Linked DNA regions of Homo sapiens. The protein of the gene in region 1 interacts with the protein of each later gene in a pairwise test. Each region holds a gene or a part of one and is shown in the gene's direction. Other genes may lie near its edges.

Region 1 (3,500 bases):
ACATTTCCTGTCTTAGCAGTTAGACCTCAGCTTCTGACAAAGTCTTGGGCCCAGTATAGAAAGCAGATCAGAGTAGGTTTGTTGTGCTGGAAAGGAGAGGGAGGACTCACAGGGCTGCCACAGCACGTGCTTCCAGGGGGTGCCATTGACACCCTAATGCCCCAACCACCAAAGCACTTCTCTGCCCAGCCCTTTACAGGGGAGGGACCAGGGCACAGGCTCCTGAGCAGGCTCTTGGTGCACCCCGGCCTCTGTGAACAGGGCTGGCTCTCCCTTCTGGATAACTACCTAGAGGCAGGTCCCAGAAACCCTGGGCACATCCAACCAGGGGCTGTGAAAGGTGCTCTGGGGCCTGGTTGGCATTGGCTTTCCTCAAATCCAGTTCCCCACTGAGTTGTCCATGCTGGCGTCCGACGTTTCCTCTCCTCACCTTCTCTCTTGACCCCACTCCTATCGAGCTCTTGCTCCTCCGCCTGCTGAGATGGCTCATAGCCCAGTCCTATCCTGGGGGCTGCTCCATCAGCCTCCTCCCACTCAGGGTTCAGGGTTCAGTCCCCTAGTACCTGGTACCTCCTTTCACTCCCAGCCCCCGCCTCCTCTCGGGCCGCCCTTTCCAGACTCCCTCGATGCCTCCTGCCCACCCACCCAGGCAACTGGTGATGGGGGAGGTCTGCTGGGGGCTGCTGTATCCCGTCCCCAAGCTCCATCCCAGAAGCACCTCCTCTCAAGGCCTGGTGCCTGGTGACCTTCTCCTGTCTCGTTTTAAACACCTTGTACACTTGGACAACTCTCAAATTCATATCGCCAGCCCAGCCCTCCCTCCTGACTTCTGCCTACTCAGTGCCTGTTTGGACATCAAATGAGTCTCAAGTTAACATGAGCCCGTGGAACCCCTGGCTCCCATCCTCCCACTAGAAGCTGCTCTGTGTGCTCCTCCCTCCCTCTAAATGTGTCTCATTCCACCACGTGGAGGTATCTCTACTTCTGCTCGTCCTCCTGTATCCCACACCGAGGCCACCAGCAGATGCAGCTCCCCTGGCAGGTACATCAGATTCTGACCACTCACACCCTCCACAGCCACCCCCACTGTGCCAGTGCCATCTGGTGACGACAGCAGCTCTGCAGGCCCCACCCGCTGACCTGCTCTCATGGCAGCAACAGGGCCGTTGTCAACATGCTTCTGGCCAGAACCCTCGAGGGGCTCCCATCTCACTCAGAGCAAAAGCTCAAGCCCTGACAATGACCTCAAGGGCCTGCTTGCCCCAGCCGGACTCTGGCCACCCTCACCTCCACCACCTTCCCCAGCCTCACCCACCACCTGGCCCCTCCACGTGTGCTTCCTGCCGCCATGCCTGCCAGTGTTTCCACTGGGCCACTCGAGGCCCACTTGCTCCCTCATTCCCCTCAGTCTCCCCTATCCAGACGCCTTCCCCAACCACCCTGCATCAAATAGCAGCCCCCAGCAGCTCTCCCCCATCACTAATAGCCTGATTCGTTCTCTCACACTACCTCCTGACATATCATCTCTCTGACTCTTCTGTTTACCACCTCACACACGTGTGCACACTCACTTGGAACACAGGCCCTGGGAAGGTGGGGCTGTGTCGACTGCCCCATCCCCAGCTCCTGGAACAGTGGCTAGGTGGGATGGACAGCAGGTGCACAGTCAGCCTTCCCGACTGGGTTGTTAAGCAGTTCTCCCACACCTTGCCCACCCTCCACAGCCGTCTCCTTGCATGAGGCTCGGCCAGCACAGAGAGGCCAGAGGGCCAGGTTGCCCATCTAAAGGAGGTTTGCCCTGGCTGGGAAAGGAAGAGCAGGACCAAACGCTTCCAGGCTGGTGTCCAGCTGCAGATGACAGCAGAGGGCGTCCTCACAGCTTGGAAGCAGAGGTCATGGGCGCCAGGGCGGGGCAGGCACAGAGGCTTGGGAGAGGCTCCTTCTGGCTGAGACCAGAGCCTGCCCAGATGCCACTGGCTGGCGAGGAGGCTGTGAGGCCGGGGGCGTGTACAGGTCTGCTCTGCAGCCTCGGCTCTCTCACCCCATCCCCACACCGTTCCTGTCCACGGAGGGCAGTCAGGCTCAGGAGAGGAGGCCAGGAGTCCTGTTTAAATTTTTTTTCTGGATTTTTAAAATGCTGATGATGTCCAGTTTAAGAGCGTGGGGTCTGGAGCCAGTCAGAACTGGGCTGGAATCCCAGCCAAGTGCATTTTCTTTTTTTCTTTTTTTTTTTTTTCTCCCCGAGACAGAGTCTTGCTCTGTCACCCAGGCTGGAGTACAGTGGCACGATCTCAACTCACTGCAACCTCCGCCTCCTGGGTTGAAGCGATTCTCCTGCCTCAGCCTCCTGAGTGCTGGGATTATAGGCACCTGCCACCAGGCCCAGCTAATTTTTGCATTTTTAGTAGAGATGGGGTTTCACCATGTTGGCCAGGATGGTCTCAAAATCCTGACCTCATGATCCGCCCACCTTGGCCTCCCAAAGTGCTGGGATTACAGGCGTGAGCCACCGCACCCGGCTGCCAAGTTCATTTTCTCGCAGTGTGACTTCAAGCTTACCTCCCTGAGCCTTGGAAGCCACCCTTCTGTTTTCTTTTCTTAGGGGCATTCTCACAAGGATTGTCACTGGGTTCTATCAGTGAACACCCTAGCTGGCGAAGTCATCTGCCCTTTCCAGCCCTGTGGACATCCATGAGCTGGTCAGCATGCCCATCTCTCATGCAGTGGTAACTGCAGGTCCAGCCAGCAAGCTGGCCCCCAGCAGGTCCTGGAGCAGATGCAGCCTGGGACCCCACATCGTTCTGTGGTTCAGACACTTGGGGCTCCTCCCTGTGGGCTGCTTGTGGTTTGCCCCGGCAGCAGGGATGGGTGGCCTGGCAGGCTCCATGGATCACTGAGTCTTCCTTCAGGCCTGGCCCAGCTCCCCACTTCCTGATTTCCCAGATCCTACCCTGGCTTTAGGTTCAAACTTAACCCACAATGAACCCCAAAGCCCTTGCAGGCAGCGTCCTCTGAGTGCTTGGCCTGAGGCCTGGGCAGGTGACTTGCAAAAGCCTGGTCTGTCCCCACAGCAGGAGGTAGCAGGGGTAAAGAGCCCTGATTCCAAAGACCGGGTCCCAGGGAGGCCCAGCCGCTGTATGGCTGTGCAGCCCTGAGCCTCCAAGAGCATCAAATTGGAAGGGGCACACAGACCCCTTGGTAAGTGAGAAGGAAGTGTGGAGAAGGCAGGGAACTGCTCAGGGGCCGCTGAAGCCCCAGACAGTAATAAAATTATGGCCTCTGGAGCCAAGGGTCCGGGTCACAGCCTCAGGCAAGGTACTTACCTTCGATGAGCCCCAGTTTTAGTACATTTAACTCAGGGAAATTACACATGAAACATGGTTACACATGCAAAGAATAGAACCTATCTGTTGGCCATTATTATCTTTTAAATGAAAAAATGACAAAACAGTATTATAATAAACATGGTAGTCTCATATAAAAGCTTGATCTTGTCTGAG
Region 2 (4,454 bases), on another chromosome or scaffold:
TGACCAGGCTGGTCTCGAACTCCTGAGTGCCTCTCAAAGTGCTGGGATTACAGGCGTTAGCCACTGTGCCTGGCTCCAATTAAATGATTTGGAATAAATTTATAGAGCTATGCAACCACCACTATGATCCAGTTTCAGAACATTTTTGTGTCCCCCAAAATTCTCTTGATTCCCATTTGTAGTTAATTACAACTCCCTCCCTCAGCCCCAGGCATTCACTGATCTGCTTTTTTTTTTTTTTTTTTTTTTGAGACAGAGTCTGGCTTTTTCGCCCAGGCAGGAGTGGCACAATCTCAGCTCACTGCAACCTCCCCTTCCCGGGCTCAAGCAATTCTCCTGCCTCAGCCTCCCGAGTAGCTGGGACTACAGATGTGTACCACCACACCAAGCTAATTTTTGTAATTTTAGTAGAGACACGGTTTCACTGTGTTGGCCAGGCTGGTCTCAAACTCCTGACCTCAAGTGATCTGCCTGCCTCGGCCTCCCAGAGTGCTGGGATTACAGGTGTGAGCCACCGTGCCCGGCTGATCTGCTTTCTGTCTCTATAAATTTGTCTTTCCCAGACATTTCATGTAAATGGAATTAGTATGTAGTATCTTGTGTCTTATTTCTTTCACTTAGTATAATGTTTTTGGGGTTCTTCCAAGTTGTAGCATGTTTTAATATTTTGCTTATTGTTGTTGGATAATATTCCTTTGTATGGATATACCACATTTTGTTTTTCCATGTCACCATCCATTGATGAACATTTGAATTTGTTTTCTGTTTTTGGCTATTAAAATGCTGCTGTAAACAATTGTAAATAAGTCTTTGTGTGGGCTTTTTTTTTTTTTTCATTTTTCCTGGGTAGAAATCTAGGATCAAATTTGTTATCTTCTTTAAAGCATAGGGTTTCTCTGTCCTTTTTGTCCGAATGTCCTCTTTGAAATAAGGCATTGGATTTTTTTCCTCATTCTTTACCCCCCCCTTTTTTTTTTAATTTTCCCATTTTTCTTACCCAGGGAGCACAATACTTGGGAACCTGAGAAAAACTTGGATTGCCCTGAGCTAATTTCTGAATTTATGAAAAAGTATAAGAAGATGAAGGAGGGTGAAAATAATAAACCCAGGGAGAAGTCAGAAAGTAACAAGAGGAAATCCAATTTCTCAAACAGTGCCGATGACATCAAATCTAAAAAAAAGAGAGAGGTAAGCTTCCTTTCCCTTTTCCCCAAAAACTATTCTTTTGCCACCAAAATAATAATAATAAATAAAAGTATCATATTTTGGTTATTTCTATTGTAAGGATGGACCTATAAGGTAAATTGTTGAACAAAAGAGCTTCCAGGGAGGTATGTTGATTACAGCTCCCTCTCCTGGCTAAGTGAGAAATGTAATTTGTGGCCACTGGATTGTATTAAGGGGGCAAAATTAAATCTTTGTAAAATGTTAAACCACTCCTCTGCCTTCTCCATAAGTAGAAGACTTAGTTATCTTAGAGAAGGAGGATCATTGGTGAATTTTTTAAGAATAGAAAGGGGCTTTGAAATGTTTTGTTTTGTTTTGAGACAGAGTCTTGCTCTGTTGCCCAGGCTGGAGTGCAGTGGCTGGATCTCAGCTCACTGCAATCTCCAACTCCCGGCTTTAAGCGATTCTCATGCCTCAGTAGTAGCTGGGATTATAGGCACATGCCACCACACCTGGCTGATTTTTTTTTTTTTTTTTTTTTTTTTGAGACAGAGTCTTGCTGTCACCCAGGCTGGAGTGCAGTGGCACTATCTTGGCTCACTGCAAGCTCTGCCTCCCGGGTTCACGCCATTCTCCTCCCTCAGCCTCCCGAGTAGCTGGGACTACAGGCGCCTGCCACCACGCCCAGCTAATTTTTTTGTATTTTTAGTAGAGACGGGGTTTTACCATGTTAGCCAGGATGGTCTTGATAATTTTTGTATTTTTAATAGAGACGGGGTTTCGCCATGTTGGTCAGGCTGGTCTTGAACTCCTGACCTCGTGATCCGCCTGCCTTGGCCTCCCAAAGTGTTGAGATTATAGACGTGAGCCACCATGCCCAGCCGGGGCTTTGAAATGTTTACCATTTCACTTCCTTTTTTCTTTTTTTTTGGAGACAGAATATCGCTCTGTCACCCAGGCTTGAGTGCAATAGTGCGATCTTGGCTCACTGGAACTTCCACCTCCTGTGTTCAAGCAGTTCTCCTGCCTCAGCCTCCCAAGTAGCTGGGATTACAGGCACACGCCACCATGCCCAGCTAATTTTTTGTATCTTTAGTAGAGACGGGGTTTCACCATGTTGGCCGGGCTGGTCTCAAACCCCTTACCTTGTGATCCATCCACCTTGGCCTCCCAAAGTGTTGGGATTACAGGCGTGAGCCACCGCGCCCGGCCCTTTCTTTTTTTTTTTTTTTTTTTTTTTTTTTTTTTTTGAGACGGAGTCTCGCTCTGTCGCACAGGCCGGACTGCGGACTGCAGTGGCGCAATCTCGGCTCACTGCAAGCTCTGCCTCCCGGGTTCACGCCATTCTCCTGCCTCAGCCTCCCGAGTAGCTGGGACTACAGGCGCCCGCCACCGCGCCCGGCTAATTTTTTGTATTTTTAGTAGAGACGGGGTTTCACCTTGTTAGCCAGGATGGTCTCGATCTCCTGACCTCATGATCCACCCGCCTCGGCCTCCCAAAGTGCTGGGATTACAGGCGTGAGCCACCGCGCCCGGCCCCGGCCCTTTCTTTTGTTCCAGTGATAGCATTTGTTTTCAATCCTTGATAATCTTTTTTTTGCAGTGAAAATCATATAATATACAATTAAATATTTTATTTATTTATTTATTTTGAGACAGAGTCTTGTTCTGTCACTCAGGCTGGAGTGCATGGGCGTGATCTCGGCTTACTGCACCCTCACCTCCTGGGTTCAAGTGATTCTCCTGTTTCAGCCTTCTGAGTAGTTGGGATTACAGGCATGTGCCACCATAGCCAGATAATTTTTGTATTTTTATTTTTATTTTTTATTTATTTTTTTGAGACGGAGTTTCACTCTTGTTGCCCAGGCTGGAGTTCAATGGCATGATCTTGGCTCACTGCACCCTCCATCTCCTGGGTTCAAGTGATTCTTCTGCCTCAGCCTTCCAGAGTAGTTGGGATTACAGACATGCACCACCATGCCCAGCTAATTTTGTATTTTTAGTAGAGAGGGTGTTTCTCCATGTTGGTCAGGGTGGTCTTGAACTCCCTAACTCAGGTGATCCACCTGCCTTGGCCTCCCAAAGTGTTGGGATTACAGGTGTGAGCCACCATGCCTGGCTCAATTAACAATTTTAAAATGTACAGTTCAGTGGCATTTATATTCTCTTGATCTATTATTTCTACATACTTGGCGTACAAAATTAATTTTTGTCTTTTGAATCTTCTTCAGTTTGGGAAGTGTATTTATGAAATTTTGGTTTGATTTAGTTGCTTTAATCCTTCTGATCTTTAGCTCTCAAGTAAGTAGCATAAGCACTGTTATTGCCTCTCTCTCTTTTCATCTGTGTGTGGGCGCATAAATACACACACTCTACCACCTCCTCCCGCCCCCAGCTTCCATTCCTTTTATTTATTTCAAGGTTATGAAGCCTTTTGTGGTGAAGGATGTATCATACACTTTACATTTCATAAAAGCGTAAGTCTACTTCGGAATCTTCCAGCCTTCCAGAGTAGCTGCCACAATCATCCCTATGTATCTTCATTCTAATTAGATTTATACCTTTCTAGAGCATTAGTTCTCAATGCTACACATTATAATCACCTGGGGGGTACGTTAAAAAAAAAAAAAAATCTCCAGTGCCTAAGATGCACCCCAGACCAGTAAAATTAGAATTTTTTTTTTTTCTTTTTTTTTTGAGACATAGTCTCACTCTGTTGCCCAGGCTGGAGTGCAGTGGCACAATCTCACTGCAACCTCTGCCTCCTGGGTTCAAGCGATTCTCCTGCTTCACCCTCCCTAGTAGCTGGGACTACAGGCACATGCCACCATGCCTGGCTAATTTTTTGTATTTTTAGTAGAGATGGGGTTTCACCGTGTTAGCCAGAATGGTCTCAATCTCCTGACCTCGTTATCCGCCCATCTTGGCCTCTCAAAGTGCTGTGATTACAGGCATGAGCCACCACACCTGGCCTCTGTCATTTTTAAAAAGGAGCAGTCTGAATAATCTGGCTTGGAGCCACTGGCCAGTGCACAGAGTTTTGTTCCTAGGCCAGGTTCTGAAGCTGCCGACCTTGAAAACAACCCCCACATGTCCCTTACATCATAATGTTCATCTGGGACCCCTGATAGCATTCTTAGCAGTACTGGCTGCTGTCAGGTAGACAGCTGGAAAGATAGGTGATTGTATGTTTTAAAGGTATAGGAGGGGATTGTGTTTATTTCTTAAGACCACTGGAGAAGAAATTTGTTAGTTTGCATTATGCCTGATTTAAGATTACTGCCTGT
Region 3 (4,454 bases), on another chromosome or scaffold:
CACATATTAAGGAGTGCAGTGATCAGATTTTCCTTTTTAAAGTGCATTCTGTGGAGCAGTAATTCTTAGCTATGGAGTCCACCACAAACTTTGTCATGATAGGTTGTGAGGTATATTAAGTATATGTTACCAATAATAAAATATCAGGGCTTACACATTAATTGATTTTTTAATAAGTTAAAGCAAGTTGAGGTTATCACTGTGATTTTCTTCATTCACTTACATCCTGGTATGCTTTTTTGGTGAGAGAGGAAGGGCAGGTAAGAATGGAGACACAGAGCATAAAAAATTACATCCAACTCACAGCCTATCTTATAGATTCCATGTTATCACTAGTAACTGTTGCTAATATGTACAGTTAAGACTTGTGATTACAAGCATGATATAATTCCATGATTAGCCACAAGATAGAAGGGAGGGCTCTATCAATCTGGGTGTATCCCCTCAAGAGCAAGTTGCATATGTGAATGTTGTCAGTCATGTGGGCCATATGTGGCTTTCAGAGCAAGAAGACTAGAGCTGGCATTTACTGAGCATTTATGTACCAAGGACTGTGCTAACACTTTTACCTATGTTGTTTCATTTAGTCCTCACTGACCTAATATTAGGGACAGTACTTGTAAGGTTTTGCAATATTTCAGGTCATGAATGATGAGGACCTATATTAGAGCAGTTGTGATGGAATTTGAGCCAAATGGAAGAGAAATTGAGGAGGCATAATAGACTTGATGGTTTATTATACATAAGAAATGAGAGAAAAGCAGTTATAATGTATGTAGTCCCCATTTCTACCTTGGGCAGATGGATGAGGGGTGGTATCCTTCACTGATTTGTAGAATACAAAAGAAGTAGTTTTGAGAGGAGTGGTGGTTGCAGATTTGGACATTATAAATTAAGAGATGTATGTCCATCAGGCAACTGTCTATATGGTTATAGGTCTTAAAAGAGAAGTCTGGGGTGACACTTAAGAGTTGTCATCATCCATAGTAGCTAAAGCCATGAATTTGAATGAGATTATCTGAGCAGAGTGTAAGAGAGCCAAGGAAAGAATTCTGGAGAGCACCACTTAAAGAGAAAGCTTAGGGGAGGAGTAGCCATTAAAGGGGCTGTAGTAAGAGAAGTAGTTTGAAGTGAGTTCACCAAAAGCTCATTAACGTATAGATTTGATTAAAATTATAATTGAGTTTTGTTGTACCCCTGGACAGTTTTGCAACCTTTTATGCAATTTTAAGCACTTTTGCCTACTTTCAGAATTGCAAAAGGGAGGTTCCTAATTTTTTTTATTTTTATTTCCAGCTCTGTTCAATTGCGTATCCCTGTTCTTAGCTGTTAATAACTAAAAGTAAGAAACCATAAATGTCTCATAGCAGAGGAGTACCTGGAACAACATCACGCTAATTCCCAAGATCTAGTTAACCACCAGATTCTGTCAGTTCTTTATCCTAAATACCTCCATTTCTCTCTCTCTCTCTCTCTTTTTTTTTTTTTTTTTTTTTTTGAGATAGAGTCTTAGTGTGTTGCCCAGGCTAGAGTTGCAGTGGTACAATCACAGCTCACTGCAACCTCCAACTTCTGGACTCTAGCTATCCTCCCACCTCAGCCTCCTGAACAGCCGGGACTACAGGCATGCACCACCACTCCCAGCTAATTTTTAAATTTTTTGTAGAGATGGAGTCCCACTACGTTGCCCAGGCTGGTCTCGAACTCCTGGGGTCAAGTGAGCCTCCCACTTTGGCCTCCCAAATTTCTCCCACGCCCAGCCCAATTTTCTCCATTACATACACCTCCCTGAAGCTGTCATCTTTCACCAGTCCATTTTCCTCCACACTCAGTGAATGTGATCTTTTTACTTAACCGCATCACTCCCTAACTTTAAACACTTTATTACCATCAAATAAGTCCACGTTTGCAAATATGGCTTACAGGGACTTTCCTGATCTGGTCCCTTCTCATCTCTCCCACTTTATCCACTGCCACATTCTCCTTCACGGTAAATTTATGCTGTAGCCGCATTGTACTGCTGCCAGTTCCTTAACTGTGTCGTCTTCTCTCCCACCTAAGAGCGTTCCTCCAAACTCACTCTCCATTCTCTCTACTCTACCTGAGGCAGTGTTTCCCCCTTCCTTTCTCTAATCTAGCTCCTGCTTATCCTACAGGTCTTATCTTCCTCTTAAAAAGTCCCTTTTAAGCCACCTCACACAGTACAGTCAGGTATCTCTGTGTCCCTCCAGCTGCACCTGGTGTTTGTTCATCCTGTCAAAGAACTTACTTGCTTTGTGATTATTGATTCTTTATCTCTCCTTCACTGAACTGAAAACTTCATGAAGTCAGAGTTCATTTTGTCTTTTTTTTTTTTTTTTTTGAGACAGGGTCTCGCTCTGTTGCCCAGACTAGAGTACAGTGGTTCAATCACGGCTCACTGCAGCCTTGACTTCCTGGGCTCAAATGATCTCTGCCTCAGCCTCCCAAATAGCTGGGACCTCAGGCATATGCCACCACACTCAGCTTTAAAAAAAAAAAAAATTGTAGATACAGGACCTCACAATGTTGCCTAGACTTCATTTCTGTGTTGTTCATTGCTAACTACCCAGTGCCTAGCAGAATGCCTGGCCTTTACTGGATACTTAACAAATGTATTTTGAATGAAAAATTTAAAAAATGGTGGCTTTTATAAATGACAGTGGTGTTATTTTGAAGAGTGTAAAACCATGTAGTGATTATATGCATCTACATTGCATGCATAGGAATGGCATTTAGATAGATATGCAGTGCTAACAGTGACTGTCTCTGGAAGAGTGGGATTATGGAACTGTTCCTCATGTGCTTTCACATTCCAGTATTTTCTGATTATTCTCTAATGCCCATGGGTTGCTTTTGAAGTAGGAAAAAAAATACTATAGTCTTTTCAGGGGGCATTTAGAGCCCTCCAATTAAATTCCTGTTATTGGACATTCATGTTTTTTTTTTTCAGTATTACCAGCAGCACAAAAAAAGTCTTAAGTAACTGAATATTACTTAAAAATAAACTGGCCAAGCACAGTGGTTCACATCTGTAATCCTAGCACCTTGAGAGGCTGAAGCGGGAGTAACACTTGCATCCAGGAGGTGGAGACCAGCCTGGGCAACATGATGAAACCCCATCTCTACTAAAAACATAAAAGTTAGCCAGGCATGGTGGCGCACACCTGTAGTCCCAGCTCTTTGGGAGGCTGAGGTGGGAGGATCACTTGAGGCCAGGAGACAGAGGTTGCAGTGAGCCAAGATCATGCCACTGCACTCCAGCCTGGGCGACAGAATGAGACCCTGTTTCAATAAATAAATAAACCTACAAAAATGTAGGAAACTCAGAAAATCTGAAGGAAAAAAGAGCCAGAGTACTTAAAGATATATAAAATGTGCTAAATTGACCCCTTGTGATGCACCAAATTACAGTTATTTAGCAGGGAAAAAGCGGAGACTGATTTTTTTTCCCCCAAATTACCATGTTGACCAAAGGGCTGCTACCAGAAAAAGCAGTATCACAGAAGCTAAGGAAGAATGTTCATTAGTATCAAGAGCCATAGAAAAAGAAGCAAAACAAAAGGTTTAAGCTTGTTTTATTATTCCCATTACAGGACCTGGTGTCAAAGATGCTTCATGTAGACCCTCATCAGAGACTGACTGCTGCTCTTGTGCTCAGACATCCTTGGATCGTCCACTGGGACCAACTGCCACAATACCAACTAAACAGACAGGATGCACCACATCTAGTAAAGGTGAGCAGCCCCATACAGTCACTGTTTTCCACAGGTCCTCCAGGAGAGACTTCAAGAAGCCCTGTCCATGCCCCCAGCACCTTTCTCTTTCATCCTGCATCCAGTTCTGTTGTGGGATTCTCTTACAGTGGGTGACTTCGAAAAGCTCAAGGCATATCAATATATTAGTAATAAAACTAGTTTAAGAGCGACTTTTGAATTCCTCTCAGTCTACATGAGTAGGTATTCACTATCAATAAGGACAGATTAAGCTTATGGATTTCCCAACTTAAAGAGCATGCCTTCCTGTCTCTTTAGTGCCTTTATGCATTAAAGGAATGCAAAGGGAAAAAATGTTGAATAGTCCTGAGAAAAGTGAGGACTGCCTGTTATGAGCCTATCTTTGTTCTCTCTCATACATAATTTTAACCTCCATGTTGGCCTCTACAGTTTTGGTTAAGTCAGTGGATTTGACCAGTGTGGTTATTTTCATTATGAACCAAATAAAATCTATGTACATTTGCATATGAAAAAACTCTTCATTTTGTATTTGTGTACGTGTGACTATCCATTGTCACTTTTGTTACTACCTTTATTTCCTTTGTTCAGGGTGCCATGGCAGCTACATATTCTGCTTTGAACCGTAATCAGTCACCAGTTTTGGAACCAGTAGGCCGCTCTACTCTTGCTCAGCGGAGAGGTATTAAAAAAATCACCTCA
Region 4 (4,341 bases), on another chromosome or scaffold:
TATACATTCTTCTAAACTTTTTTCAAAGTTTTCAGCTTCTTTGCCTTTGGTTTGAATTTCCTCCCGTAGCTCGGAGTAATTTGATCGTCTGAAGCCTTCTTCTCTCAGCTCGTCAAAGTCATTCTCCGTCCAGCTTTGTTCCGTTGCTGGTGAGGAACTGCGTTCCTTTGGAGGAGGAGAGGCGCTCTGCTTTTTAGAGTTTCCAGTTTTTCTGCTCTGTTTTTTCCCCATCTTTGTGGTTTTATCTACTTTTGGTCTTTGGTGACCGTGATGTACAGATGGGTTTTTGGTGTGGATGTCCTTTCTGTTTGTTAGTTTTCCTTCTGACAGACAGGACCCTCACTACTGATTTCTTCTCTTCTTTCCTCCCTTTTTCCTTTTTTTCCTTCCTAAATGATATAGAAATTTTAGGTAGTCATGTAAAAGATATCTCATTGATATATAAATGAGATATAAAAGATACCTCATTTATGTAAAACAACATATTTAAATCTCTTTATAATTCTCTTTATATATGGGAAATATATTTAAATATGTTGTTTTATATAAATGAGATATAAAAGATAAAAGATATAAAAGATACCTCATTTATATAAAACAACGTATTTAAATCTATTTCACTTTACCTCATTACTTAGAGTTAATAAACTGACCTTTTCTTAATTTTTCCATTAACTTTATCTAAACATTAGAGTTTTTTTATGAATAAAACTCAACAATAATTATTTGGCAATTTTTAATTTATCCGTTTTATTTTCTAGCCTGAGCAATATTTTACCAAAGCTGCTTTTAGTAGCTAAGTCTGAGGCTATCTTTATTGGTTCCATTCTTTAAGTAATTATTCAATAGTATCAGTTTTCTTTCTTTGAGAAATTGTTACCAACATCTATACTATGGTTAAATTTTGGAACAAATGTAGTATATCCTAGCTGTTTTATAGTTTCTATATAAGTAAATGAGGTAGATGAGGATTTTTAACATTTTGTATGTGTTCTTTGGGAGTTCTCAATAAATAAAAAAGGTCATATTGAGTATATATATTATGAATTCCTACTATTCCAAGTGTGTTCATGATCAGCAGCAGCAGTGTCACCTAGGGGTTTGTTAGAAATGCAGAATTTCAAGCCCTGCTAAATCAGAATCTGCATTTTACCAAAATTCTAAGATGATTCAAATGCGCATTAAAGTTTGAGAAGCACTGGCGTGATGATGAAAGAATTTGCTATTCTTTGTAGAAAGATTTTAACTACTGATTTTATCTTGTTAATGATTTATTTTCTATTCTTGAATTTGCTTTGGTAATATATAATTATACATTTGTTCATGTTGGTTTTCAAATATATAGGTATTAGAGATGTTTATGGTATTCTCATGTACATAAAACCATGTAGTCTGCAGTTGATTCAATGACATAGCAGCTCTTTGCTGGTAATTTTGACCACGTGATTTCCTCTTATGCTCTAGCTATAGGCTTGAAGTCCCCACATAAGACTGTATAAATTCTATAAAACATCAGTTCCATTTAAAAGAAAATTCATATGGGGCCTCATTGATAATTTAAATTACTGTGATACCACTTAAACATGTATAAACATGATGAGGTGTGAATTCCTTAAGCTTAGAGCTCTTTTACAGCTACAAAACTAATATAAACTTACACATTAAATACATTAAATACAGACAAAACTTAAATACAGTTTCAAATTTACAACATTAAAGAGACCTATGATACCGTTTAGATGAAACTAAACCAGTGGTTTGGGATTTAATTAAGGAAAGATAGAATCTGAGGTTCAAATTTCATTATTTTGCATTTTGCTTTTTATTTTGACTTATATACTTCATATATTTTTTATATCCTCATGTAAAGAATGTGTGCATTAAGTAGATGTCTAATCCAATTATTGTAGTATCATAAACAGAGAAATAATATCTTAAATGAGCTCTGAAAAATCAGAAAAGTGTGGTATGGTTGAAATATATGTTTTATTAATACTGATAATATGCTTATTTTATTATGCAATTCCTAACCAATTTAAGAACCTTTTTACAGTGCAGCCAAACTTATTACACATTAGAAGTTTTATTTTATATCACTTTGGCAATCAGAGGTGTAGATACAAACCGAGGAACTTGAATCTCATGGTAAAAATGATCTAGAATATACTTATAATGATCTTTTAAAAATTATCATCAAAATGAAAATAAAATTAAGAAACCATGGTGGAAATTTCCCAGATGCCCTAAGCATGCATTTGCCAGCCTTGAGTGATCCACTTGGAGGAACAGTGACCCAGAGTGGGGTTTCTCAGTCCTGGCACTATTGACCTTTTCACTGTTAATTCCTAGTTGGGCAGGGTTGAGGGTTGCTGTGCACTGGAGGATGTTTAGAAAGCATCCCTGGCCTCTGCCCATTAGATGGCAGTAGTGCTTTCAGTTGTGAAAATAAAAATGCCTCCAGTCATTGCCAAATGTCCCCCTGAGGGACAAATATCACTGACCTCCCCACCTTGGTTGAGAACCACTGATCTAGAGCAACTACAGCTATTATCTATTAATGTTTTTTTTTTTTTGAAAATCTGAAGTACAGATCTATAAATACGTATTCACAATCTGAAATCCAGAAAGTGCTTAAATTTAAAACATTTTTCATAATTTTGTAGCAAGCTCACTGGGTAAAACTTCGCCTAAGCTAACAAAAGATATTTAAACTCTATATGTCTCAATATCAGTGTCCATGTGTGTTGCTACAGAAACATTTATGTGTTTAATTATAAAATTCTGCCTCAGAACTCTCTGGGGGTGTTAAATAATACATTTTCAAAATCTGAATTCCAAGACACATTCCAAAACAGTAGTTTACGGTAGGGGATTATGACCCTGTATTTGAAAAGCAAGTTGACTGTCAACAATGCTATACTGATTTAATTTTTCCTGATTTTGACCTTTGGCTATTTTTATCCTTCTCATATTCCTCTCATATATTTTTCACAATAAAATAGGAGACATGATAGGAGATATGTTTTTTGCCCAAAAGAAAATAATACACTTAATGCCAGTACCTGGTAGTTTTTATTATGTGGTTGATGGCCAGTACTTTCCATTGCTATAAACATTTTGCATCCAGTTGTAAATTTTTTCTCATTGACATTGCTTTTTAACTTTAGTCACTGAAGACTGTCCTCTTAACAGCTTAAAGTACATGGACTAGTTTAATTTGTGACTCTGTTACTCATTAAACCTAAATCATTTTCTTTGTATTAGGTTGGCATCACTCTCTTCACTGTGTCTCATAGGAAATCTCTTTGGAAACATCATGAGGTTTGTATTTCTTTCATTGAATGGTACAGTGAAATTTTATTTTCTTTAAAATATGAATTCAGGTTAATATGGTTTTAGATTTTATGGTTTGTATTCCCTTAAACATATGTCTTAAGGAGAAAAGGTGGTTTTGTTTTATAAAATAGGATTTTCTTAAATATTATAGTTGTCAGTTTTGAAAGCAATGGTGTAACAGTTTTTCTCCAGTTTTATAAGTGACTCTTATCTGTTAATAGTAACTGACTAAACTTTGCATAGTCTTATCACAAATATGGTGAAGTAAACTTTTCTTATCCAGCAGTGACAGAGGAGAAAAAGTCTTAAGAAGAATTAGATGGCAAAAAATTTAGGGACATTTTTAATAGAGGTCAGGACTACAAGGGGGAAGATTGAATAACATAAGCTATGTTTATCAATGTACTGTAGTAAGTAGGATTCATTAGATAGTCACTATAATTTACAAAGATATTCAAATGAGGCTTACATTGGTGCACGTGTATTACTTATTCTGGTGCTTCAGTAGTGCCATTCTCACTATGTCAGTTCTTTTCAACTCAATGTGAAATGCTCAAAACCTGAAAGTAAACCCAGTTTAATTCTCTTTATTTTCTTTCCTCCTCCCTCCCTCCCTCCCTTCCTTTCTTCCTTCCTTTCTTTTCTTCTTTCCTTTCTGTCTTTCCCCCTTCCCTCTTTCCTTTCTTCTCTTCTTTCCTTCTTTTCCTTCCTAAATGATATAGAAATTTTAGGTAAAAGCAAGGATTTGAGAAAAATTGGAATAATGGTAAAGGTGCCTTGTTCCACAAAATACATACCTGATTAAGGACCTTTTTTTGCCAGATACTGAGCTAAGTGTCATGAGGGATGCAAATTAATTACAGTTTTTACCTTCAAGAACTTTAGGATGTAGATGATAGTCTACAAGTGATAAAATGAAGAGCATAGGATTTGAAGTCAGAGAGCCTGGGTTCAGGCACCAAAGTTTCTAGCCTCAGTTGCTTCCTTTGTATAATGAAGTTATTG
Region 5 (3,618 bases), on another chromosome or scaffold:
CTGTTGTAAATGCAGGTGAGTTGCTTGTGGCTGGAATTGGAGAGGTCCTGGGAGGTAGGTGTATGAGCACAGACCTGCTCCCACATGCAGAGGATCAACAGACCAAGGCTTTTTATTTGCTACCTATAGAAATATCAGTATCTTCCCCAGGGATTTCTTGGTTCACCTTCCTGAAGCAGCATCATGATTACTTTCTACCCGCCAGCTGGGCAGAACAGTTTCTCTTCCCAGTGTACAGCTCGGCAGCTGCTCAGGCAGCAGGCAGTTCTGGGATAGCCCAGCTCTCCAGGCTGTCTCCTGTCAAGGTGGAAGCACGTGTTCTGGCTTCCTCCCCTCCCCCAGCTCCACAGGCCCTGTTACCTTGGGGCCTGACTTCCACAGTTGGTGTAGGCTCCTGGCTGACCTTTGATCTTAGGTCGATGGGCCTCACTGGGAGCTTCGGCTTGGCCTCTCATGGACCTGGTGCTTATTTTCTTTCCTTTTTACTTACCTACGTCATTGTAGTGTTGACCTAACAAGCACTTTGTTTTCCTGTTGACACACTTCTCTGTTCCTTGGGAGATTGGAGAGGGGTCAGTGCTACTTTTGCCATCCTCAGCAGTGTCAGGGGCCCTAAAGGTCTAGAAGTAGAAGCCCTAGTCCCTCCTGTTGAGTGGTGCTCTAGGGAGGTAGAAGGCCATCTTTGTTTTGCCCAAATGTATACCTCTTCTTTTTCCCATTCTTCTCATGCCTCCCTGACTGGCTCTCATCTTTTTCAGTGGCCCCCTTCTGCTTGCCCACACATGTAGGCGGCTCTCAAAAGTTCTCGTGGCCTCTTTTTCACATTACATGCTTCCTCTGGATGTCTTATCTAACAATACAACATGGACTTTCTGCGGAAATGATTCCCAAGCCTTTATTTTCCCATTAGTTGCTAGGTGTACATTTTCAGATGCTGGTTTGCCATCTCTTGAGGTAGCATATTTCAAAGCCAGATCACCCCGCTTACTCTTGGATCTCCCCTCTTCCTCTTGTTGAGAGTTGGAAGCAGAGAATGGGTAGTATCTCTATATCCCTTTTCCTTTGCTAATTTGCCCTTTTTTGGAACATTTGTTAACCCTAGTCATTCTCTGCTAAAGGAGGGCTTGACTAGAGCTACTTAACGAGAGTTTAGTGCATACCTATCCTATGGAAGCCAGTGTGTTGAGCCCTTCTTAGGGCTGCCAAAGAAATGGATGCTCCTATGCCCAGGCTCAGTCAGGGACTTGGGAGATACTATACTTGGGATGGGAGTAAGTGGAATGCCAGCTGCCATGCATAATGCAGTGGTGTTCATGGTGGTTGGTCAGCCCACACTGTATCAAGCTCTGCAGATTTTTACTCTGTTAATGCACATATTACCTCATTAGTCTTGGCCTTCCTGGGGAGTTGTATGTAACATGTATTTTCTCTCTCATAGTGATTGACGACACAACCAAAGAGGTGGTGTATAGGGATTATATTGACATCAGTGTTGCAGTGGCCACCCCACGGGTATGTTGGGGCAGGAGGTGGGGAATGTTGGTCTTAGACCCTCACCTTATCTGTGTGAAGGAGATCACACAAGAGAAATCATTTCTTTAATTCTGTATTTTTAGAAGGGAGTTAGTAAAAGTAACCTTTTTTTTCTTTTAAACCATGCCGCATTCTTTTAACACTTTCTGTTAATCACACTGAGTAATGAAGGTATTCTAGGGAGGGCATACCATGGGTTGAATCAAGGGAGTTGTTAACTATAAAAGGTACTATTAATTTGCAACTGAAAACAGCTTTTCACCCCCTTCAGGGTCTGGTGGTTCCAGTCATCAGGAATGTGGAAGCTATGAATTTTGCAGATATTGAACGGACCATCACTGAACTGGGAGAGAAGGTAAAGTAGAAAGATGTATACAAGCTGCTAAGCAGGCGAGGGAAGAGAGCCTTCAGAAGGCTGGGCTCACTAGCAAGCAGTGCTCATGGAAAGTCAAGTGCATAGCCCCTGAGAAAAGCAGTTGCCCATGAGAGCTAAGTATTTTATATATCTGGTGGAGTTTACCATGCTCTGGTAACTGAAATCTCATCAGATGAGACCTGCTAGAAAAGATCATCTTTGAAGTCTTCAACTGTATGAAATTGTGCCTTTTCTCTGGTGGAGCACTGGTCATAGACACCTTAGCCGAACAACTGTCACACGGAAGCTAGCGCTTGTGCCATCGATCTCGATACAAGCTTTCTGGACTTCCTTTGCTTTTTTGTTTTTAGAGGCAGGGTCTCGCTGTGTTGCCCAGGCTGGAGTAGAGTGGTAGAGTCATAGCTTACTGCAGCCTTGCACTCCTGGGCTCAAGCGATTCTCCTGCCTCAGCCTCCCAAGTAGCTGGGACTACAGGTGTGCACCACCATGCCTGGCTAATTCTTAAGTTTTTTATACAGATGGGGGTCTCACTATGTTGCCCAGGTTGGCCTTGAACTCCTGGCCTCAAGCAGTCCTCCTGCCTCGGCCTCCCAAAGCGCTGGGATTATGGACTGACTTTAGGTGAAGGAAACTGGGTTGGCTTGATATTTCAATTATGAAATCTGTTTTTAGGCCCGAAAGAATGAACTTGCCATTGAAGATATGGATGGCGGTACCTTCACCATTAGCAATGGAGGCGTTTTTGGCTCGCTCTTTGGAACACCCATTATCAACCCCCCTCAGTCTGCCATCCTGGGGATGCATGGCATCTTTGACAGGCCAGTGGCTATAGGAGGCAAGGTAGGAACCGTCACTTCTAAGGTCCTAGTGGCTAGGTCTCGATGAAAGGGAAATCCAACTAAATGCTAATTGTAAAACATTAACTATAATTTCAGGCCTAAGTTCCATTTCTTAGTTTCTAATAGCTAAGGCACTGATTATCAAATTGTGGTCTGGATCAGCATCATCTGGGACCTTATTAGAAATGCATATTCTTAGACCCCATCCCAGACTTAAAGAAGAAGTGCAGATGATCCTGATGCATATTCAAGTTTGAGAACCACTGAGCTGAGGAGGCTTGTTTGCTTCTATGGAGTGGGGGATATAGTTGGAAACGTGGTCCCTTGCCCCTGGGAAACAGATGACAATTATGCATGTCAGTCTGTGAGCTGCCAAGTTGTATGATAAAGCTTGTAAATTTCCCGGGAGTTCAGAGAATTAAGTATTAAAAGGGGCTTGAGCTGGCCCTTAGAAGATACGTTGGTATCAAAAAAGCTTTCTGGGAACTCCTGTGTTTAGAATCCTTTTGGGTTACTGACTCCTGTGTGAAACCACAGTCTGTAGATCTTCCTGGAAAATGCCCATACACCCAGCTACACATACAATTCCAGAATTTGTAGACCCTGGCTTAATTTTTTTTTTTTTTTTTAAATTCTAACCCCAGAGAGAAGCAAGTACAGGCAGCCAGAACTGAAGGGAAAACTTTCCTTGTAGGCAGCAGATGCGTTAGAGGGCAGAGTATGTTTTTAAAAAATAAAAGGCAGTTGTGAGAAGACAGTTTTCTTGGCAAACTTTGTTTCTGAGTGGGGAAGCTTTGCACTGAGGGTAAGTCCTGGTCTTTGAAATACTGTAAATATGCAGAGGCAACATCAATAGGAAAGGCTCTGGAA
Region 6 (4,454 bases), on another chromosome or scaffold:
CCAGTTTCTAGCAAGCTTACAGTCCTAGTCACACTCCTCTGGGGGGAACTCTTGTGTCTTGATGTCCTTAAAGAACTCAACCCAAGATGCTGACATGATCTGACCTATGCAGAGTACAAACACCATGTTCCCTTTCAACACACTGCAATATCACCTGAGCCTTACCATTAGCTTGTGCTCAATTGTATCCCCCCAGGCCCTTACTGATTCTTTTTTTTTTTTTTTTGAGACAGAGTCTCACTCTGTCACCCAGGCTGGAGTGCAGTGGCGTGATCTTGGCTCACTGCAACCTCCGCCTCCTGGGTTTAAGCAATTCCTGTGCCTCAGCCTCCCCAGTAGCTGGGATTACAGGCATGCACCACCACACCCGACTAATTTTTGTATTTTTAGTAGAGACGAGGTTTCACCATGTTGGCCAGGCTAGTCTCAAACTCCTGACCTCAGGTTGTCTGCCTGCCTCAGCCTCCCAAAGTGCTAGGATTACAGGCATGAGCCACCACATCTGGCCAAGCTTTACCCATTCTATATGCAATTCTTTTTTCACAATTTCTGATAGTCTCTGCAGGACTTTCCAGTTCCCTTCAAATTCTACATTAATATTTTTGGCTTGTTATTCCAGCTTTTGAAATCTTTCCAATACTGTTTGTGTTGTCTAGTGTATGTCTACGCTTCTACAGTAGCTTCCTGGGGCTGCTATAACAAACTGCTACAAACTGGGTCACGTAAAACAACAGAAATTTATTCTCTCACAGTTCAGGAGGCTGGAAGTCCAAAAGCAAGGTATCAGCAGGGCCACGCTCTCTTTGATGCTGTAGCAGGGAATCCTTCCTTGCCTCTTCCTAGCTTCCGGAGGTTGCCAGCAGTCCTTGGCATTCCTGGGCTTATAACTGCATCCGTCTAATTTCTGCCTCCATCTTCATGTAGCTGGCTTCCTTCTGTGTGTCTCTGTATCCTGTATCTCTGTGTCTCCAAATCTCCCTCTCCATATAAAGACACCAGTTTTTATAAGGTGGGTTAAGGGTCCACTCTAATTCAGTATGGCCTCTTTTTTTTGAGATGGAATATCGCTCTTGTTTCCCAGGCTTGGAGTGCAATGGCATGAGCTCAGCTCACTGCAACCTCCGCCTTCCAGGTTCAAGTGATTCTCCTGCCTCAGCCTCCTGAGTAGCTGGGATTACAGGCACGTGCCACTATGCCCAGCTAATTTGTTTTTGTATTTTTATTAGAGACGGGGTTTCACTATGTTGGCCAGGCTGGCTCGAACTCCTGACCTCAGGCAATCCACCCACCTCGGCCTCCCAAAGTGCTGGGATTACAGGAATGAGATACCATGGCTGGCCTCTTCTTAGTTTGATTACATTTGCAGGGATCCTGTTTCCAAATAAGATCACATTCACAGGTTCAGGGTAGACATGAGTTTTGGTGGGATACTATTCAACCCAGTACACCGTCTCACCTTATGATTGCTGTCTGTATCCCACTTTCTTACTGTCTCTCCTCTTTTGGTGTCTCTCTGTCCCTTCCCCCTTTAACATCATGCCCACCCCACCATGCCAGGACAACAGCCGCCGGGTAGACAATGTGCTAAAGCTGTGGATCATAGAGGCCCGGGAGCTGCCCCCCAAGAAGCGGTACTACTGTGAGCTCTGCCTGGATGACATGCTGTATGCACGCACCACCTCCAAGCCCCGCTCTGCCTCTGGGGACACCGTCTTCTGGGGCGAGCACTTCGAGTTTAACAACCTGCCGGCTGTCCGTGCCCTGCGGCTGCATCTGTACCGTGACTCAGACAAAAAGCGCAAGAAGGACAAGGCAGGCTATGTCGGCCTGGTGACTGTGCCAGTGGCCACCCTGGCTGGGCGCCACTTCACAGAGCAGTGGTACCCTGTAACCCTGCCAACAGGCAGTGGGGGATCTGGGGGCATGGGTTCGGGAGGGGGAGGGGGCTCGGGGGGTGGCTCAGGGGGCAAGGGCAAAGGAGGTTGCCCGGCTGTGCGGCTGAAAGCACGTTACCAGACAATGAGCATCTTGCCCATGGAGCTATATAAAGAGTTTGCAGAGTATGTCACCAACCATTATCGGATGCTGTGTGCAGTCTTGGAGCCCGCCCTGAATGTCAAAGGCAAGGAGGAGGTTGCCAGTGCACTAGTTCACATCCTGCAGAGTACAGGCAAGGCCAAGGTGAGTGTTGTGCCCTCAGGGAAAGGTGACTTGGGAATGGGCACTTGCTTGGGGGTTAGTGAGGACAGGGCAAATTCACGAGATTGGGTTGTGCAGAGGCTGACACTTGGATTTTCCTGGGCCTCAGGACTTCCTTTCAGACATGGCCATGTCTGAGGTAGACCGGTTCATGGAACGGGAGCACCTCATATTCCGCGAGAACACGCTTGCCACTAAAGCCATAGAAGAGTATATGAGACTGATTGGTCAGAAATACCTCAAGGATGCCATTGGTATGGCCCACACTCAGGCCCTCTTCTTCCCAAACCTGCCAGATGTCCACCCCAGACCCCAAGTCCACCCTTCCACAGCTTGATACTTCCTAACCCAGAGTCCTAGGACTCCAGCCTCCAACACCTGATTCTGAAATTTCCCCAACCCTGGCCACCCCCTTCCCTGCCCTTGGAAAGTGTGACCACACCCTCTTGTGCCCCCACCCCCCAGGAGAATTCATCCGTGCTCTGTATGAATCTGAGGAAAACTGCGAGGTAGACCCTATCAAGTGCACAGCATCCAGTTTGGCAGAGCACCAGGCCAACCTGCGAATGTGCTGTGAGTTGGCCCTGTGCAAGGTGGTCAACTCCCACTGGTGAGACTGGGAACGCTGGGCTGGGGGGCCAGGGTCGGGGGAATTATGTGTTCATCTGTTCATCTATCTGTCCATCCTCAAAGAGGACTGAGCACCATTTATGGGCAAAGCATTGTTCTAGGCGCTATAGAGCAAACAGGTGAAAGAGGCCTGGTCCCTGCCCTCAGAGGGCCTCCACCAGAATGGGGACAAATTAGAAGAAAAAAAAAAAAAGCCACAGAGCCATAATGGTGTGTAAGTGCTGAGTAAGGGTCCCCCCAACCTCTGTGTGACATAAGGTCAGAGAGAAGGCAGAGCTTTGAGATAAGTGGGGAAGAGGTGCCCCCTTGGGTAGGCTTTGAAGACTGGTTTAGGTTCTGATATATGGACATAGTTGGCAAGAAAGACATTTCAGAAGAAGGCTGTGAGAAAGGCACATGTGTGATGGTGAAAAGGCCCAGGAGTTTTCAGGGGACATTAAAGTAGGTTAGTAGCAATTACATCAGGTTTAGTGGAGCATGTGCCTCATAATGGGGAGTGGCGGGAGAGATGTCTGGGCAGGAAGATTAGCTTTAGAAACTGGAAGGCCTCAAGGAGTCTGAGGTCATTGGTAGGCCTTGGGATGCCATTAAAGGTGTCAGAAATATTGTGATTTAGAAGATTAATCCATAGGCTGGGCACGGTGGCTCACACCTGTAATACCAGCACTTTGGGAGGCTGAGGCGGGCAGACCACCTGAGGTCAGGAGTTTGAGACCAGGCTGACCAACATGGAGAAACCCTGTCTCTACTAAAAATACAAAATTAGCCAGATGTGGTGGCACATGCCTGTAATCCCAGCTATTCGGGAGGCTAAGGCAGGAGAATCACTTGAATCTGGGAGGTGGAGGTTGTAGTGAGCCGAGATCACACGATTGCACTCTAGCCTGGGCAACAAGAGTGAAACTCCATCTCAAAAAAAAAAAATTAATCCATAAGTAGAGTGTATGTAGTAGAGTAGAGGGATGTATGTTGGGGGATGACTGGAATAGAGCCAGCTGGGGGCTCGGAGGCATGAAAGTCAGATCCTGAATCAGAACAGTGACAGAAGTTAGGAAGGAGCTACTGGAAGGACCCTCTCGGGAAAGGATCAGTAGGAATTGTCAGCTTATTGGAAAGGAGGGAGCATGTCTGTGGGGAGTCACGGATGACTCAAGAGGCCATGAGGCTGGTGGTTGGGAGACCGGTGGCCTCATTGACAACCAGGAAAGTCAGGAGGAGGAGCCAGTTGGAGGTGTGGGGGCGATGGTGAGCTCTGCTTTACACCAGCCGAGTTTAAGGTGTCAGTGGGACATTGAAGTGGAACTGGGAGGTGCGGGGAGTGAGCTCTGAGCCATTCCAGGGACTGGGGATCATGCCTGGGGCACCTCCATCCCCATTTCCCTGGAATCCAGAAGAGTTGGGGGGTCCGAGCTCCCTGTACCTCAAGTGACCCTCCATCTCTCTCCCATCTCTGTCTCTCCCTGGTGTCTGTTTTTCTTCTCCTCCTCTCCTTGTCTCTCTCCCACACCCCTCCATCTCTCTCCCACGTGTCTCTCCCCTCACCTTCTCTCCCCCTCCATTTCTCTCTCCCTAATCTGTCTGTTCCCTCTGCCATGGCCCCCTTCTTCAAGCAGCCTCCCATCTTG
Region 7 (4,454 bases), on another chromosome or scaffold:
AATGATGTATTCCATTTTTTTAAACCCCTCCCCTCATTTCTTTTCAAACTAGACCAAGTATTCATGAGTCAGATGAGAACTATAGGATTTTGAAAGACAAAACAGTCTGAAAGGTCATCTTCTTATTCCTTTTAAAATGAAAAGATTAGTTTCCAGAGAGATTTGCTGACTTGCTTAGGCCACACAACCAGAAGCCTGCTGGTGTTCTGTCTGGGGATTTTTTCCCATTCAAATCTCATAAGTGAAGCTCCTTCTCCAAAGAATAATGTTTCTAAAATCTAGGGTATGGGCATCTGGGGTATGTCCTATATGCAGGCAAATGCCATAAATAGCATTCATTCAGAGGCTCAATTACATCAAAAACAGAAGGATTTAAAGAGTCCCTGATGTTCTCTTTCACTCTTGCTTTTGTCTCCTTTGCCTTGCTCCACATGTTCCTTCCCTCAGGGCCATGTGGTGTTTGATGCCAGCGGCTCTCGGATGGCATGGACGCTTATCGAGCAGCTTCAGGGTTAGTACAGGGGCAGGAGGGGACCGGACATGGGGGCTAGGCTGGGGCTGGGCTGGGATGCCCCCTGGGGAAGAATGCCAGAGACATCACAAGATTGCCCTGGCACCTCCCAACTTCTGCCCTTCTCTTTTAACTCTGTTCATCAAGCTTGTAAATAATAATAATAATAAGCTTAACTACAAGAAGATTGATGTCTTTGAGTTGCACTGGTTTTGCTCTTGAAAAGAGGTGTGCAGGCTGGGTGTGGTGGCTCACCCCTGTAATCCCAGCACTTTTGGGAGGCCAAGGCAGGCAGATCATGATCATGGTCAGGAGTTTGAGACCAGCCAGACCAACATGGTGAAACCTGTCTCTACCAAAAATACAAAAAAAAAAAAAAAAATTAGCTGGGTGTGGTGGCAGGTGCCTGTAGTCCCAGCTACTTGGGAGGCTGAGGCAGGAGAATCACTTGAACCCAGGAGGCAGAGGTTGCAGTGAGCTGAGATCACGCCACTGCACTCCAGCCTGGGTGATAGAGTAAGACTCTGTCTCAAAGAAAAAAGAAAAGAAAAGAGACATGCAAATTAAAAACAGCTACTCTCTTTCCCAGTGGCTTCCATTAATTTCAGGAATTTCCCCTTGAGTGGCTTGGGTTGAGAGGTTGATGACCTGTCAGTTAGACTCAAGAAAGCTGAATCTAGGAGAACCGCTATTTTTTTTTTAAGGGAATCTGCCAAATTTCCTTGCTGTGTAAAGCTTCAATGTGTATAGCTTGGCTTTTGTAGATTGTATTTTCTTGAAACTTAGCACACAGGTATTTGCAGAACTTCTAGGAGTTAATTTTTCTGCTCCACTCGGCTCTCAGTCTTTTACGGCATGGCCAAGAGAGCTATTTCTTGGCCTCCTGTGAAAAGTTTCTTTCTTCCTTTCTCCCCACCTCCACATCCTTTCAGCTCCTCTTTGTATCCAGGACAAGAGGAAATGGACTTCAGCCATGGTGAAAGGAGTGTGAGTTGGCTTTTGAAGGAAAAGTTATGGTAACGGAAACAGTTCTAGAACAGAAATCTTAGAAATGACCAAATTTTACTCAATGGCGCTTTAAGAGGCAGATATAACTTATCCAAGGAATTAAAACCCAAGCCAACAGAAGAGAATGTTCTAAAATTAAAATGAAAGCCACTGGGAAAATAGAGCCTGCCCATCATGAGAGGAAGAATAAGCAGAAATATGTGTAAAGCTTTAGAAGCCAAAATCAAAGTGAGAGACATCTCGCCGAGAGAGGTGTGAGGAATGGAATAGGTGGCAGACATGTTGTGGAGCCTCCTCACTGAAGACTTTTAAACATAGATATTCTTATTTATTTGAGTTGTCTTGGGAACCACCTTATATTGCTTTTAAGTCATGTTGCTGATTCAAGAGTCTCGTAGGTCCTTCCAAGCATCCTTAGGGCCTCAGGTGAAAATAAAATCAGATACAACCATGCAAAGCTCTAGGGAAGTGGGAAGTTGAAAATGCCTAGGATCAGCTCTTTGGCTACCTGTGGTCACTCCTTTTATTGTCGTCTGCCCAGGTGGCAGCTACAAGAAGATTGGCTACTATGACAGCACCAAGGATGATCTTTCCTGGTCCAAAACAGATAAATGGATTGGTGAGTGGATCTTGTTTGTATTTTCCTTCAGCCCCTCTCGACAGTCAAGGGAAAAAGTCATGCCTTTGAGTGAGGATGGAATGGTAGAGACTGTTAGGTTGGAATGTGGCTGGCAGCTGGGCCAGGAGAAAGGGTTAAGTGAGAGTGAATACAACCCCTAAGGCGTGGGTAGGGGAGACTGGTGTATTTGGAGAGGGAATAGGCGGTGGTTAGTACTATTTTTAATGGTGCATTGCTGGGGTAACTGGGGATTAGAGGCAGGGGGTGGGCAGAGGGCGGGAAATGGAAACTCCATTTGGGTTTCCCAGATGTCCTGGTGTCTTGATATATTTGAACCAGCTACTTCAAGCCCAGAGCTGTCTCTTTGTCTGTCTCTGTCAGGAAAACGGTTGCTTAAACTATGGAGGAGGAGGGAAAACCTCATGTAATTGTCATCTGCCAAAATGTGCTTTTTATTTTTATATGTATTTTTAAAAATTTTCCTATTTTTATGTAATTTAGAGGTAGACGTGCAGTTGTGTTACATGAATATATTGCATAGTGGTGAAGTCCGGGCGTTTAGTGTGCCTGTCACCCGAACAGTGCACCTTGTACCTAATAGGTAGTATTACATCCCTCAAAATATACTTTTTAAAGAGAGAAAGCAAGCAGTTATTCTTTGTGTACTTGGTCTAAATGATAGGACATAGGAGAGAAACTGAAGGTGGACAAAAGGAAGGACCTACTGATAAAAGAAAGCCTCCTTGAGAATGAAGGGGAGGCTCAACCATTGAAGATGGCTGCCGTCTGCCCTGCCCAGCAGATATCCAGTCATTCCCAGCACTGCTGGAGTTTTGCCCTTTTTTTTTTTTTTTTACAATTCGAATTTAGGACAATGTTCTGGATTGCTATAAATGCTGCATGGCCTAAATTATTCTTTAAAAAAAAAACTAAGCAAATTGAAATTAGTTTTTTTTGGTGAACTCTGACAAATTTGAACTTCCCCCTAATAATAACTGGAAAACATATTTGGGAATATTACCCTGCCAGGATTAAAATTTCAGATTAGCTTTCCTTCTTTTTTTGTTTGTCTTAAGAATAGGTGTCCACACTAGATACTTCAAGGCCTTTTTAGCTTTATGATTCCATAATTGTCATTTAAAACTTTGATTTGGGTTATAAGAAACCTTATAACATTTTTTAATGATCCCCTTCTTTCTCCTCCCATTTTCCTTTGCTGTAAGAAAGACAGAAAAACTTAAAGAACAAACAAAAACAAAGACTACAACTTTGGGGACATGCCTCAGCATTTCCCAACCTATGGATAGACCATTCACTCCATCTTCTCATCTCATTTCTGGTTGCTTCCTAACGGCCCCAGTGGCACTGAGCATTCTGCCTGCAGTAACCTCTGTCCAGTGCAGTTAGGGCCTCATGTCCCCAGCCAATGACTGAATGTCCATCAGCAATCTAGTTCTTTGCCCTTTTCTCCTATCCCGTCTTCATTCCTTTGTCCTCCTTCCCTTCTCTTTTCCCTTCCCCTCTTCCTCCCCTGTGCCATGCAGGAGGGTCCCCCCCAGCTGACCAGACCCTGGTCATCAAGACATTCCGCTTCCTGTCACAGAAACTCTTTATCTCCGTCTCAGTTCTCTCCAGCCTGGGCATTGTCCTAGCTGTTGTCTGTCTGTCCTTTAACATCTACAACTCACATGTCCGGTAAGTTTCTCTTCTGACGTTTTCCTTGTCTGCCTCTCTGAGATACTGATCATGTTCCTGGACAGGATGAGAATAAAACCTGTGTAACTCCCATGGCCATGTATCATGGAGTTTTTCATTCTGACTTGTTGAGAATGAAAACAGGGAAACCAGATATAACCCCCACTCCTACTCCAAAGTAGCTAACGGGAGGAAAAAAGAAAAGAAGAGAAAAAAACAACCTTTGGGGCCAGGTCTCACAGTCTTGGACTCTACATAAATAGCCTGTATTCTAGTGGGGGCCTGTGCTTGGGAAGCCCTCTGCAACTCCATCTTCAGCCCCATGACTGCATTGCTCTGCCTCTCAAGGCTCCACTGTCTTCTCCAATCCTGTCTTCCTTTAGCCCCTGGCCCTGAAATTAGGGTCATGCCATTGCGTGGTATTTGGAGAGCTCAGCCTCCCTGGAGAAGAGGGGTAATTCTCTCTCCCTCTCACCCTCTCCACCTCTGCCCTAGTTATATCCAGAACTCACAGCCCAACCTGAACAACCTGACTGCTGTGGGCTGCTCACTGGCTTTAGCTGCTGTCTTCCCCCTGGGGCTCGATGGTTACCACATTGGGAGGAACCAGTTTCCTTTCGT

What was found.
Region 2: the proteins of GNAO1 (region 1) and CBX5 interact in binary tests that used the Homo sapiens proteins (3 or more experiments, as listed by UniProt).
Region 3: the proteins of GNAO1 (region 1) and RPS6KA3 interact in binary tests that used the Homo sapiens proteins (3 or more experiments, as listed by UniProt).
Region 4: the proteins of GNAO1 (region 1) and ABCD3 interact in binary tests that used the Homo sapiens proteins (3 or more experiments, as listed by UniProt).
Region 5: the proteins of GNAO1 (region 1) and DLST interact in binary tests that used the Homo sapiens proteins (3 or more experiments, as listed by UniProt).
Region 6: the proteins of GNAO1 (region 1) and SYNGAP1 interact in binary tests that used the Homo sapiens proteins (3 or more experiments, as listed by UniProt).
Region 7: the proteins of GNAO1 (region 1) and GABBR1 come close enough for resonance energy transfer, tested with the Homo sapiens proteins (one study listed by BioGRID).

Annotation. Positions count from the first base shown.
Region 1 is NC_000016.10:56,330,989-56,334,488, forward strand, and holds part of GNAO1 (guanine nucleotide-binding protein G(o) subunit alpha), read left to right. Parts: intron 1-3,500. UniProt on the Homo sapiens protein: Guanine nucleotide-binding proteins (G proteins) function as transducers downstream of G protein-coupled receptors (GPCRs) in numerous signaling cascades.
Region 2 is NC_000012.12:54,248,775-54,253,228, reverse strand, and holds part of CBX5 (chromobox protein homolog 5), read left to right. Parts: intron 1-1,001; coding exon 1,002-1,188; intron 1,189-4,454. UniProt on the Homo sapiens protein: Component of heterochromatin that recognizes and binds histone H3 tails methylated at 'Lys-9' (H3K9me), leading to epigenetic repression. In contrast, it is excluded from chromatin when 'Tyr-41' of histone H3 is phosphorylated (H3Y41ph).
Region 3 is NC_000023.11:20,155,410-20,159,863, reverse strand, and holds part of RPS6KA3 (ribosomal protein S6 kinase alpha-3), read left to right. Parts: intron 1-3,614; coding exon 3,615-3,755; intron 3,756-4,343; coding exon 4,344-4,454. UniProt on the Homo sapiens protein: Serine/threonine-protein kinase that acts downstream of ERK (MAPK1/ERK2 and MAPK3/ERK1) signaling and mediates mitogenic and stress-induced activation of the transcription factors CREB1, ETV1/ER81 and NR4A1/NUR77, regulates translation through RPS6 and EIF4B phosphorylation, and mediates cellular proliferation, survival, and differentiation by modulating mTOR signaling and repressing pro-apoptotic function of BAD and DAPK1.
Region 4 is NC_000001.11:94,511,882-94,516,222, forward strand, and holds part of ABCD3 (ATP-binding cassette sub-family D member 3), read left to right. Parts: intron 1-3,264; coding exon 3,265-3,321; intron 3,322-4,341. UniProt on the Homo sapiens protein: Broad substrate specificity ATP-dependent transporter of the ATP-binding cassette (ABC) family that catalyzes the transport of long-chain fatty acids (LCFA)-CoA, dicarboxylic acids-CoA, long-branched-chain fatty acids-CoA and bile acids from the cytosol to the peroxisome lumen for beta-oxydation.
Region 5 is NC_000014.9:74,898,485-74,902,102, forward strand, and holds part of DLST (dihydrolipoyllysine-residue succinyltransferase component of 2-oxoglutarate dehydrogenase complex, mitochondrial isoform 1 precursor), read left to right. Parts: coding exon 1-15; intron 16-1,438; coding exon 1,439-1,512; intron 1,513-1,804; coding exon 1,805-1,888; intron 1,889-2,581; coding exon 2,582-2,749; intron 2,750-3,618. UniProt on the Homo sapiens protein: Dihydrolipoamide succinyltransferase (E2) component of the 2-oxoglutarate dehydrogenase complex. The 2-oxoglutarate dehydrogenase complex catalyzes the overall conversion of 2-oxoglutarate to succinyl-CoA and CO(2).
Region 6 is NC_000006.12:33,436,111-33,440,564, forward strand, and holds part of SYNGAP1 (ras/Rap GTPase-activating protein SynGAP), read left to right. Parts: intron 1-1,252; exon of another isoform or gene 1,253-1,371; intron 1,372-1,557; coding exon 1,558-2,181; intron 2,182-2,220; exon of another isoform or gene 2,221-2,308; coding exon 2,309-2,453; intron 2,454-2,664; coding exon 2,665-2,809; intron 2,810-4,454. UniProt on the Homo sapiens protein: Major constituent of the PSD essential for postsynaptic signaling. Inhibitory regulator of the Ras-cAMP pathway.
Region 7 is NC_000006.12:29,608,608-29,613,061, reverse strand, and holds part of GABBR1 (gamma-aminobutyric acid type B receptor subunit 1 isoform a precursor), read left to right. Parts: intron 1-447; coding exon 448-511; intron 512-2,060; coding exon 2,061-2,138; intron 2,139-3,682; coding exon 3,683-3,833; intron 3,834-4,328; coding exon 4,329-4,454.